Regions from separate parts of the Homo sapiens genome. Here all the other regions are linked to region 2. The links come from fine-mapping of genetic effects on gene expression. A gene starts in region 2. Each other region holds a variant in brackets. All regions are shown on one strand. Distances are from middle to middle.

Region 1 (4,169 bases), 27 kb after region 2:
GTTCAAGCGATTCTCCTGCCTCAGCCTCCCAAGTAGCTAGGATTACAGGTGCCCACCACCACACCCAGCTAATTTTTGTATTTTTAGTAGAGATGAGGTTTCCCCATATGGGTCAGGCTGGTCTCGAACCCCTGACCTCAGGTGACCTACCCGCCTCAGTCTCCCAAAGTGCTCGGATTATAGGTGTGAGCCACCGCGCCCGGCCAGCATAGTCCATATTCTGAACTTACACAGGATGTAAAACAGTTGCAGAGTGGGTTTTTATCCAAATAGCTATTTTGGGGTTTCAAGGAAATAAAATAATTCTTGGGACAATTTGGATAGTGAGAGTTGGGATATGAAGGGATGCTGCATTCCTAAGTAGGTGGTCACAAAGGAAAATAAATTGTTACCATGCGTTGTGCAGATTTTTGTTGTTGTTGCTCTTGAGAGAGTCTTGCTCTGTTGCCCAGGTTCGAGTGCAGTGGCGCAATCTTGGCTCACTGCAACCTCCACTTCTTGGGTTCAAGCGATTCTCCTTGTGCAGATTTTTTTAAGAGATAGGGTCTCAATCTGTTGCTCAGGCTGGAGTGCAGTCACATAATCATAGCTCACTGCAGCCTTGAACCCTTGAGCTCAAGTGATTCTCTCGCCGCCTCAGCCTCTTGAGTAGTGGAAACTCCAGATACGTACCAACCACCACACCCAGATTGTAGAAAAAATTTAACTGGAAGGCACACAGGGCAAAATGCATGTGATTTGTGTACAGGTTCGTTAACTTTCCCAAATGCATCCATCTGTGGAATCATCACCCAAATCAAGGTAAGATATTTGCTTTATCATAGAAGGTTCTTTTGTGCTCCCTTCTGATCAATATGCTATTTTTTTTTTCTTTTGAGATGGAGTCTTGCTCTGTCACCCAGGCTGGAGTGCAGTGGCACAATCTCGGCTCACTGCAAGCTCCGCCCCCTGGGTTCACCACATTCTCCTGCCTCAGCCTCCAGAGTAGCTAGGATTACAGGCGCCCGCCACCATGCCCTGCTAATTTTTTGTATTTTTAGTAGAGATGGGGTTTCACCATATTAGCCAGGATGGTCTCGATCTCCTGACCTCATGATCCGCCCACCTCGGCCTCCCAAAGTGCTAGGATTACAGGCATGAAGCCACCGTGCCTGGCCCCATATTCATTCTCAAAGGTCACCACTGTTCTGATTTCCCACCATAGGCCAGTTGAGCATGTTCTAGCCCTCCTCTAAATGGAACTATACAGTATTTACCGTCTCTGGCTTCTTTATCTCAACAAATTATCTGAAATGCATTTCTGTTGCAGTGTAGGTCGATATCGCTCTTATTTATTGCTGAGTAATCTTCCATTGTATGAATGTACCAGTGTATCCAATTGATTTGTTCCCAAATTTTGGCAATGATGAGTACAGCAGCTAAACGTTTGTGGACACATTTTTGTAAAAGCAAAAGTTTTCACTTCTCTTGGGTAAATACCCAGGAGTGCAACTCCTAAGCTGCATAGTAAATAAATATATATTATATATATATATATTTTTTTTTTTTTTTGAGACAGAGTTTTGCTTTTGTCACCCAGACTGGAGTGCAATGGTGAGATCTTGGCTCACTGCAACATTCTGCCTCCTGGGTTCAAGCGATTCTCCTGCCTCAGCCTCCCAAGTAGCTGGGACTACAGGCATGTGCCACCACGCCCGGCTAATTTTTGTATTTTTAGTGGAGACGGGGTTTCACCATGTTGGCCAGGCTGGTCTCGAACTCCTGACCTCAGGTGATCCATCCACCTCGGCCTCCCAAAGTGTTGGGATTACAGGCGTGAGCCACTGCACCCAGCCTGTATTTTTTAACTTTATTAAGAAACTGCCCAGTTATTTTCCAAAACAACTCAGCCATCTACTAAGGGAGCACCAACCAAGAGATGAGGAGTCCTGTTGTATCCCATCCTCCCTTGGTCTTGTATTCAGCCATTCTACTGTGTATAGTGGTGTCTCATTGTGGTTTCCCGTGGTGTTTAAGAGACAGGGTCTGGCTGGGCGTGGTGGCTCACGCCTGTAATACCAGCACTTTGGGAGGCCAAGGTGGGTGGATCACTTGAGGCACCGGTCTCTACTAAAAATACAAAAATTAGCTGGGCATGGTGGCAGATACCTGTAGTCCCAGCTACTTCGGAGGCTGAGGCAGGAGAATCGCTTGAACCTGGGAGGCGGAGGTTGCAGTGAGCCAAGATCGTGCCACTGCACTGCACTCCAGCCCAGACAACAGAGCCAGACTCCGTTTCAAAAAAAAAAAAAAAAAAAAGCGACAGGGTCTCACTCTGTTGCCCAGGCTGGAGTGCAGTGGCATGATCATGGGTCACTGCATCCTTAAACTCCTGGGCTCAAGGAATCCTCCCCACCGCAGACTTCTGAGTAGCTGGGACTGCAGGTGTGCACCACTGCACCTGCCTAATTTTTTGTGTTGTTTTTGAGACAGAGTTTTGCTCTTTCACCCGGGCTAGAGTGCAGTGGTGCGATCTCGGCTCACTGCAACCTCTGCCTCCCGGGTTCAAGCAATTCTCCTACCTCAGCCTCCTGAGTAGCTGGGACTACAGGCGCCCACCACCATGTCTGGCTAATTTTT[A/G]TATTTTTAGTAGAGACAGGGTTTCACCATGTTGGCCAGGCTGATCTTGAACTCCTGACCTCGTGATTCGCCCGCCTCGGCCTCCCAAAGTGCTGGGATTACAGGTGTGAGCCACCGTGCTCGGCCTTAATTTTTGTATTTTTTTGTAGAGACGATGTCTCACTATGTTGCCCAGGCTTGTCTTGAACTCCTGGCCTGGAGTGATCTCAAAGTGCTGGGATTACAGGTGTGAGCCCCCATGCCCAGCCCAGTGGTGTTTCTTGATGAGCAGATACTGTCATTGCAGTGGCCAGTGCTTTAAGTCAAATTCTCAAGAACACCTGATTAAATAGTTGACACTCAATTTTATTGCTAAAAAAAATGTCCTCTGGAGTGACAGCAGGTATTTGTCCTCAGCCTCTCCCCAGAGTCCCTGGGAGTGTTTCTGTTATTGTGGAGGGAATAGGGGATCTGGGGACAGGGTGGGACGTACCATGGGGACAGGAGGTCACAGAACACACACACACACACACACACACACACACACACACACGTGCACACACACATCCCCCCACAACTACAGCCGCCAAAATAACCAGCATGGTGTTGTAACATCCCCCCAGTGGGGGCTAGAATTCCCCATGGTGACCTGTGACCTGCTCCCTGAGACAGGGGAGGCCAGGCAGGTCACGGTGGGGACGCAGCAGAACATTATTTCTCCATCTTGCTGTTTTCTAGCCTTGAGTTGGGGACATGAGTGAGAACTGGGGGTTTTGAGGAGTAACCCTTGTGAACACATGTACTCCAGCAGCCAGGCATCCCAGATCTCCTGTCCTGGAGGGTGCTGGGGCCCCTGGCTCCCCAGAGTGTGCAGGCAGACCCCCAGAGCCCTAGCTCATCCATTTATCCATTCCTCATAATCCAGTGTCCAAAGAGCACCCCCAGCAGGGCAGGGAAGGTCCCTCCCGGGGTTTACATGACTGATTCCTTCTCAGAGGCGACCGTGGCATCCCCTGCGGGCCCCCGATAGTGTTTGAGGAGGGGGTTTCCTTCCTCAGTGGGGACTGGCAGCGGATCCAGGGGCAGCTCACTCTTCACTTGTATCAACTCAGGCTCTGTGCTTCTCGACTCCGTACGGTCCACGTAATTTTGGAGGAGTCCTGCCCCCAGAGCGTCACCTTCTACATTGAGGACGGTACAGGACCGGTCGCTAAAGGGGTAGAAATGACAGCAAAGTAAGCGGGAGGGGAGAGGGTGAGAGGGAAGGAAAGGGCCAAGGCCTAAGCCTCCTGCCTCTCTCCCCCTGGAATCTAAAAAGTAAAAATTAAGAGTTGGAGTCAGCCTGGGCAACATAGTGAGATCCCATCTTTATATATATTTAAAAAAAAAAAAAATTAGCCAGGCATGGTAGTGCACACCTATAGTCCCAGCTACTCAGGAGGCTGGGGCAGGAGGATCGCTGGAGCCTGGGAGGTGGAGGCTGCAGTGATCACAACCATGATCACATCACTACACTCCAGCCTGGGTGACAGAGCCAGACTGTGTCTCGAAAAAAAATTATAATTCACCTA
Region 2 (4,183 bases):
GCGTGAGCCACCGCACCCCATCCCTACCGACACAATTCTCATCAGCTATTTATTTGGGTACCAGCTTCCTACTAGATAGCAAACGGCAAATCGGAAGGGGAAAGGTGGGCTGCTACAAGCAGGTAATGACAATTTCTGCTAATAATAACCCAGTCCAAGAATCTTCAGACTTCCAGCGGGCCATTCCTGATCCCTTCAAATCCGGACATCTCCATGGTCCTCCAGTCACTGCCAATGGACCTGACGCTCCACGAGGTCACAAACCCTAGCCCAACTCCTCAGACTCTTCCATTCAACATCCCTGTCCCAAGCTACCCCAAAAACCACGGGGTCTTTTCCCAAGACTTCCACAAACATATCCCCTTCCCCCCAACCCCAGTCTACCCCCGTTCCGAGATGCCTCCTCATGTTGCCTTCGGGCTCTACAAAATTCTCCCCCCTAAAGCATCACCCCAGGGTAACCCCTAACTCGTCCTCATTGGCACCATCCCAGGACCCTCACCTCCATACTGGACATGCCCAACACCCCACACTCCAGTTCAGGGCTCTCTACCTACATCCTACAACACACGTGCCATCTCAGTGCCATCGCGCCCACTCCTGCACACCCCCAAAGTGGAACTTCCACTCTTAAGCTCTCCCATCCAGGCTCCTAGGGTACATTCCCTGCTCTGTCCACACTTCCACTCCAAAGAACCCTTCCCTGCACTGTGCAGCCACACATGCCCGGGATCCCCAAAGTTTCTCCTCAGAGGGGAAGGCACACACCTTCATCCTGGACCCCTTGAAACCCTCCTCCCACCCCTCGGGTCCTTACACAGCCCTCCTTCCGTGCCCACCGTCCAGTCGCCCCGAAACACACCGATCCCAGGTTCCCGACTTCCTCTCCCTAAATCCTCCCGGTTCCCCATCTGGACCCGCTCTTTCCCAGCGGGTCCCAAGTTCCCCCCTTGGACGCTCCCACCTCCAACCTGCACCTGGCTAGGGCCATGGTCGGGGTCGGGGTCGGGAGTCCCTCGGCGCCCGGCAAGCTTCTGCTTACTCCCACAGGAGACCACTCAGGTCTCCCAGACCCCTCCAGCTCCTCTCCACACCCTTTCCCGAGTTCTCTTAGCCTCCCCTCCAGGGCTCGAGTCGCCTCTCTCAGGAGCCCCGCGGCCAGCGTGCTCAGTCCCAGTCCCAGTCCCACTCCCAGCTGGTTGTGGTCCCTCCGCCCCTTTCTCTCGGCCGGTCCCGGTGATCCCTCCCACCCCCGGTCCCTCCACTCCCACCTCGGGCCGTCCCGGTCCCGTCCCACCCCGGAGTGCCCTCAGGACACCCCTCGGACGGCCCCTCACTCGCCCTCCGGGACCGTCGCGGTCCCCTCCCGCCCCCCCGCCGGCCGTCCCGGCGGCCATTGCTCCAAGATGGCGGCGGCGGCGGCAGCGGGTGAGGCCGGGCCGGGCCGGGCCGGGTTGGGGGTCGGGGGTCCCGGGACAGCGCTCACCTGTAACTCGGCGCGCTCGGCCTCCCAGCGGGCTTTCTCGGCTTCGAAGCGCGCCCACTCGTGCTGGATAAAGTGCAGGATCCCCGGCAGGCTCAGGGGCTCCGGGCCCGCCGTGGGCCCGGGGCTGCCTCCGCCGCCGCCTCCCTTACCTGCCGGGCCCGGCCCGGGGGCAGGGGCGGAGACCGGGGCCGCCCCAGTGGGGCCAGGGCCCGCGCCTGAGCCGAGCGGACGGCAGGAGGAGGCGGCGGCGGCGACCGCGGCGGCCGCTCGCTCCTCCATCATGGAGGCCCCGGGGCCGGCCTGCGCGCCCGCTGTGCCTCGCGCGCCTGCGCGGCCGCGCCAACACCCCCCCCCCTCCCCCGCCGCAACCACCGCGCGCGCGCCCGGCGGGGGACAGTAGGAAGGGGGGCCGGCGGCGAGCGCGAGCCTCGCCCACCCGGGTCTACACCGAAGGGTAGCGTGCCCGCGCGGGGGCCGGCGGGTGGGAGATCGCGCCCCGAGGAGGGCGAGGGAGACCCAGGCCCCGCGCGACGGTCCCCCTCGCTGGAGTGAGACTGAGGAAGGGGCCGCTTTCTGCCCCCCTCCTCCCACTTCGCCCCAGAGAAAGAGCCTTACCCCTTCCACACCCAAACACCACTCTCCTGGACAATTACTTTTACTCTGAGAGAAAGGGCGACCAGCAGTGGCCCCATCCTCTCTGATTGCCGGCCAGGTTGGTTGTCATGGTAACCCTTCCCCAGCGGTGGGGGCGAGGTGGTGGGGAGCAGCCTTCCCCTCGCTTCCACCTTTGTGGTTATGGAGCCCCAAACCTCTTAGGACTCTGCACCAGGAGAAGGTTGCTAAGGTAACCTAAGTGTCCGTGGTGGTCCTTCTGCTCCTATCCTCATTGATTACTATGGCAACCTCCCCCCCACCTAGCATTCAGGTAGAAAGGACCCCAGCCCCAAGGACACTGATCTCTAAGAGAAGCACCTCTTCCCCAGCCCCTCCCCCATAGCCACCTAGTTGGCATTACCATGGTAACCGTCTTCCCCTTCCCATCGTGGGAGGCCCATGCACCAAACTAACCAGGTGTTTTTATTTAGAGGAGATGCTCTGCTGAGGGGCAGTTGCTATGGTTACAGGGCCTGGACCTTCCTCCGGAAGGTGAGAAACAGGCAAGTTCAAGGCCTGGTTACTATGATAATAGAGCAGCCCCCTTCGAGTGACCCTAGGAACCAAGCCCAACAAAGGAGGGGATTTTTTTTTTTTTTTTTTTTTTTGAGACAGAGTGTAACTCTTGTTGCCCAGGCTGGGATGCAATGGCCCAATCTCGGCTCACCACAACCTCCGCCTCCCCGGTTCAAGCCGTTCTCCTGCCTCACCCTCCCAAGTAGCTGGGATTACAGGCATGCGCCACCACGCCCGGCTAATTTTTTTTTTATTTTTAGTAAAGACGGGGTTTCTCCATGTTGGTCACGCTGGTCTTGAACTCCCGACCTCAGGTGATCTGCCTCAGGCCCGCCTCGGCCTCCCAAAGTGCTGGGATTACAGGTGTGAGCCATCACGCCCGGCCAGGGGATGTTTTAAGAATGTCTCTCAGAGGTAGAGTGTGTCTATGGAAGGGGTTGTCATGGTAACAGCTTCTGTTGGCTTCTAGCCCTACCTTTTCTGGACACATTCATGCTAGAGGGATGGTTATAGGTTGCTATAATAACTGACATCCCTCCCATTCACCCCACCCCACTCCTGAGACACCCCAGGTGGTGCCCGAGATTATAGGACTTCAAGAGAAAGGATTCCCTGACCTTTCTCTTGCCACTTTTGTGGATAAGATGAAATTGTGCTCTATTGTACGGAAATGGCTGATTTGGGATTTTCTGGTTCTCCTCCTCTCAGGAGCGCAGCTCAGCTGGGCTGGAACTGCCCTCCTGGAACTCCCCCAGCCTACAACCTAGGAGGTAAGAAGTCCCTCAGTGTCACCTACACTCTCATGGAAACTGCCCTTCCTCATTCCTTAAGGCTTTCCCATGTCTCTCATTTTTTTCTTTTTCTTTCTTTCTTTTTTGAGACGGAGTGTCGCTCTGTTGCCCGGGCTGAAATGCAGTGGCGCGGTCATGGCTCACTGCAACCTCCACCTCCCTGGTTCAAGCGATTCTCCTGCCTCAGCCTCCCGAGTAGCTGGGATTACAGGCACCTGCCACCACGCCCGGCTAATTTTTTGTATTTTTAATAGAGATGGGGTTTCACCTTGTTGGCAGGCTGGTCTCGAACTTCTGACCTCGTGATCCGCCCGCCTCGGCCTCCCAGAATGCTAGAATTACAGGCGTGAGCCACCGCGCCCAGCCCTCTCATTTTTTTCTAACCGTCACATTCCCATTCCACAGGTGCAGGGACTGAGGCTCAGGCCAAATCGCAACTCAGACCCAGTGAACCCAAGGCCTGAAGAGAATTTGGATTCATTTACCTTGTTTTGTGGGGACTGGAGAGACAAGTAAACTCTCAGAGTAACTGTCCCCTCTGACTACCATTTCTAAGGCAAGCCCCCTGTTTCTACTCTTGCGCCCCCTGCTGGTTTCCTGCCCTGTCTGTAAGTTGCATGGCTTTTGTCCGTCTTTTTTTTGTTTGTTTGTTTGTTTTGAGACAGGGTCTCACCCAGGCTAGAGTGAAGTGGAGCAATCTCGGCTCACTGCAACCTCCGCCTCCTGAGTTCAAGTG
Region 3 (4,194 bases), 200 kb before region 2:
GTGGTGCAATCTCGGCTCACTGCAGCCTCCACCTCCTGGGTTCAAGCGATTCTCCTGCCTCATCCTCCCAAGTAGCTGGGACTACAGTCGCCCACCACCACGCCTGGCTAATTTTTGTATTTTTAGTAGAGACGGGGTTTTGCCATGGTGGCCAGCCTGGTCTCGAACTCCTGGGCTCAGGTGATCCACCTGCCTCAGCCTCCCAAAGTGCTGGGATTACAGGCGTGAGCCACTGCGCCCGGCCTAAATTTCCTCTTCTTATGAGGACATCTGCCATGTTGGGTTGGTGCCCACTCTAAAGACCTCATTTTAACTTAATTGCCTCTCTAAACGCCCTTTCTCCAAGTATAGTTATATTCTGAAGTACTGGAGGTTAGGACTTCAACACAGGAATTTGGAGGGAACACAATTAAATTTGTCACAATGGGAAACTCGGGACTGGAGGGACTGTGGGCACAGGTGTTTCCCAGGCAGGCAAGGGAAGGTTCTAATTAGGTTACAAGATGGTAAGGTCCATATGAGCAGAAACCTATGTTCGAATTGTTCACTTCTATGTTCCTGAATTATACTGGCACTGAGGAGATGCTCAGTAAATGTAAACTGAATGAATGAAAAAATGAGGCCGGGCGCGGTGGCTCACGCCTGTAATCCCAGCACTTTGGGAGGCTGAGGCGGGCGGATCATCTGAGGTCAGGAGTTTGAGACCAGCCTGGCCAACATGGTGAAACCCCGTCTCCACTAAAAATATGAAATTTAGCCGGACGTGGTGGCAGGAGCCTGTAATCCCAGCTACTCGGGAGGCTGAGGCAGGAGAATCGCTTGACTCCGGGAGGCAGAGGTTGCAGGGAGCTGAGATCTCACCATTGCACTCCAGCCTGGGTGACAAGAGTGAGACTCAGTCTCCAAAAAACAAACAAACAAAAAAAAACAAATAAAAACAAAGAATGGACATTGGATCTATATATATCATGTTTATTTCCTGGGTGAATTGTAAGCAAAAAGCTTGCCTATAAGACAGAATGTTAAGCCCAGTGGTCTTGTGTGGATTCTTTCTGGAATGTAACTCTTCATCTTGAGACTGTGGTTCCTATAAAGTTTGTTTCAAGTGTTTATTATATTTAATTATTGCATTTTTTTGAGACAGGGTCTCACTCCATTGCCCAGGCTGGAGTGCAGTGGTGCAAACATAGCTCACTGCAGCCTTGGCCTCCTGGGCTTAAGTGGTCCTCCCATCTCAGATTCCCAGTGTTGGGATTACAGGCATGAGCCACCACGCTTAGCAAAGTCAGTGCTTTCAAACATAAAAAAAAAAAAGCCCGTTCTCTCTTGCAGCTGTATAGGAAGGGGTTCTATTCTGCATCATGAAATTGCTCTAAATAATTAGTTTTTTCACTTTAGGAGGCCGAGGAGGGCGGATCACTTGAAGTCAGGAGTTTGAGACCAGCCTGGCCAACATGGTGAAACTCCATCCCTACTAAAAATACAAAAAAATTAGCCGGGCGTGGTGGCAGGCACCTATCATCCCTGCTACTCGGGAGGCTGAGGCAGGAAAATCGCTTGAACCTGGGAGGCGAAGTTTGCATTGAACCGAGATCACGCCACTGCACTCCAGCCTGGGTGACAGAGCAAGACTCTGTCTACAAAAAAAAAAAAAAAAAAAAAAAAAATCAATTTTAATAGAGTGGCACATTGAGAACATACCCTAAACATTCATTCTGTTCTCCCGTGCAGCCAGGAGCTCCAGTTAATTTTCCTGTTACCAGCCTCATTTGTTAACTCTGTTCATTTGTGTCTTTCCTTGAAAGGATAATTTGAACAAAAGAGTCTAAGATTTTTTTAGAAATTGTTGCAATATCTGAAAAAAAAAAAAAAGAACCTCCCAAAGAAACCTGCATTCTGATTGGTTGTCTTCCTTGATTATTTGTTGCTATGGTGACCAGGAGGTTAAATAGCATCTCTGTATTTCCTAAAGAATAAATACTGGTTGGTTTTCTCTGGCAAATCAGAAAAGGATCATTTCTCTCCTTCCATGATCATGATGCAATAAAAGCC[T/A]AGGGCTCTTCTAGATTTATATTTTATCAAAGAAAGTGAGAGTCTTGTCTTATCCAAATTAACAGAAGCACTTAGTCCAGTGTCCAGTCGCTTGAGTGGCGGTGGCCACTCTCGGAAGGGCAATTACAAACTGTACTAATAGTAAGTCCAGCGCGCCATCTGGTGGCCAATTAGAGAATAGCATGACCGTATCTACTTAAACTAAAAGGCGACTCACCTCCCTTCTTGTCTGTTAAGGCTGCCCTAGCAAATTAATACAATAAGCTTGTTCCTGTTGGTCTTAGTCTGATTGAGAAAGAACCCTTGACTGCTTTGACCCATAGAATATGACAGATGTGACACTGTGCTGGGCATGGCGGCTCACGCCTGTAATTCCAACACCGAGAAGCAGAGGTGGGCGGATCGCTTGATCCCAAGACTGCAAGACCAACCTGGGCAACACAGAAAGACCCCAACTCTACTAAAAATAACTTTTTTGTTTTGTTGTGAGACGGAGTTTCGCTCTTGTCGCCCAGGCTGGAGTGCAATGGCGTGATCTCGGCTCACCACAGACTCCGCCTCCTGGGTTCAAGCGATTCTCCTGCCTCAGCCTCCCGAGTAGCTGGAATGACAGGGGTCCGCCACCGCACGTGGCTAATTTTGTATTTTTAGTAGAGACAGGGTATATCCATGTTGGTCAGGCTGGTCTTGAACTCCCGACTTCCACCCACCTCCGCCTCCCAAACTGTTGGGATTACAGGCGTGAGCCACCACTCCCGGCCAAAAATATAACTTTTAAAAATAGGCTGGCGTGGTGGCCCGCACCTGTAGTCCCAGCTACTCGGGAGGCTGAGGCAAGAGGATCCCTTGAGCCTAGGAGGTAGAGGCTGCGGTGAGCTATGATGGCGCCGCTGCACTCCAGCCTGGGTGACAGAACGAGACCCTGTCTAAACAAACAAACAAACAAACAAACAAGTGACACCGCCAGGCCTGGATCTACATTTTAAGGGAACCAGCAGATTCCGTCGTGATCTCTTTGGCTCCCAGGCTACTGTGTAAGAATTGCAACTCCCCAGCCGGGCGCGGTGGCTCACGCCTGTAATCCCAGCACTTTGGGAGGCCAAGGCGGCGGATCACGAGGTCAGGAGATCGTGACCATCCTGGCTAACACGGTGAAACCCCGTCTCTACTAAAAATACAAAAATTAGCCGGGCGTGGTGGCAGGCGCCTGCAGTCCCAGCTACTCGGGAGACTGAGGCAAGAGAATGGTGTGAACCCAGGAGGTGGAGCTTTCAGTGAGCCCAGATCGCGGCCACTGCACTCCAGCCTAGGCGACAGAGCGAAACTCCGTCTCAAATAAATAAATAAATAAATAATAAAAAAAGAATTGCAGCTCCCCTAAGAGCATGGAGCTGTGAGAAGGCCCAGGAGAATTGAAGCTTCCAGACATGGGAGTGAAGAAGCCATCTTGGAGGTGGGTCCTCCAGCCCTCATCACATGATGCCACGTGGAACAGAAATGAACATCCAGTCAAACCCTTTTCACATTCCTGACCCACAAAATCCTGAACAAGCTTGGGAATTAAGCTATTACTGTGCCATTTTTTGTTGTTGTTGTTTTTGTTTTTTCTTTTTGTTTTGTTTTGGGTTTTTTTTTTTTTTTTTTTTTTTGGTTTTCTGGGTTTTATTTGAGATAGAGTTCTGCTCTTGTTGCCCAGGCTGGAGTGCAATGGCACTATCTCGGCTCACTGCAACCTCCGCCTCCTGGGTTCAAGTGATTCTCCTGCCTCAGCCTCCTGAATAGCTGAGATTACAGGTGCCCACCACCACGCCCGGCTAATTTTTGTATTTTTAGTAGAGACAGTGTTTCGCCACGTTGGCCAGGCTGGTCTCAAACTCCTGACCTCAAGTGATCCGCCCACCTCGGCCTCCCAAAATGCTGGGATTACAGGCGTGAGCCACCGCCTGCGGCCATTGTGCCACTTTTATAGAGGAGGAGATTGAGGTTCAGAGGCCCAGTTGATGGTCCAAGATCACACACTGGGAAGTACTGGAACCAGGGTTATGAAATCCTGTCTGCTTGGCTGCAAAGCCTCTACTCTTCCACACTGCATTATTTAGGAAGACAGACAGGCTTTGGGCACGAGCGTGGGCCTCACTGAGG

Which allele goes with the higher level. Positions count from the first base shown, and alleles are read on the strand shown. Sizes are in standard deviations (SD) of each study's normalised expression. Not every link is listed here.
For the expression in whole blood of the gene that starts at base 1,788 in region 2, T is the high allele of the variant in region 3 and A is the other (large effect, 1.1 SD a copy in Lepik 2017).

The links. PIP is the estimated chance that this variant, and not a neighbour inherited with it, causes the effect.
Region 1: its variant is the best candidate, but not a certain one, in a credible set for the expression of STRN4 in caudate (GTEx, PIP 0.72).
Region 3: its variant is the best candidate, but not a certain one, in a credible set for the expression of STRN4 in whole blood (Lepik 2017, PIP 0.70).

Annotation. Positions count from the first base shown.
Region 1 is chr19:46,771,940-46,776,108 of GRCh38, forward strand. It overlaps SLC1A5 (solute carrier family 1 member 5), which reads right to left. Exons shown (of 8, transcript NM_005628.3): 8 at 2,944-3,808. The coding sequence ends at 3,571. Among named protein-coding and RNA genes, the nearest start is that of SLC1A5, 15 kb to the right of the region's middle. The variant A/G (reference allele first, on the strand shown) is at 2,620.
Region 2 is chr19:46,744,663-46,748,845 of GRCh38, forward strand. STRN4 (striatin 4) reads right to left here and starts at 1,788. Exons shown (of 18, transcript NM_013403.3): 1 at 1,487-1,788. The coding sequence starts at 1,768. FKRP (fukutin related protein) reads left to right here and starts at 1,395. Exons shown (of 4, transcript NM_024301.5): 1 at 1,395-1,428; 2 at 3,365-3,426; 3 at 3,853-4,003. RefSeq lists silencers at 1,334-1,563, 1,774-1,823, 1,834-1,983, 2,024-2,123, 2,164-2,213.
Region 3 is chr19:46,540,655-46,544,848 of GRCh38, forward strand. It overlaps the pseudogene PPP5D1P. Among named protein-coding and RNA genes, the nearest start is that of PNMA8B, 47 kb to the left of the region's middle. The variant T/A (reference allele first, on the strand shown) is at 2,053.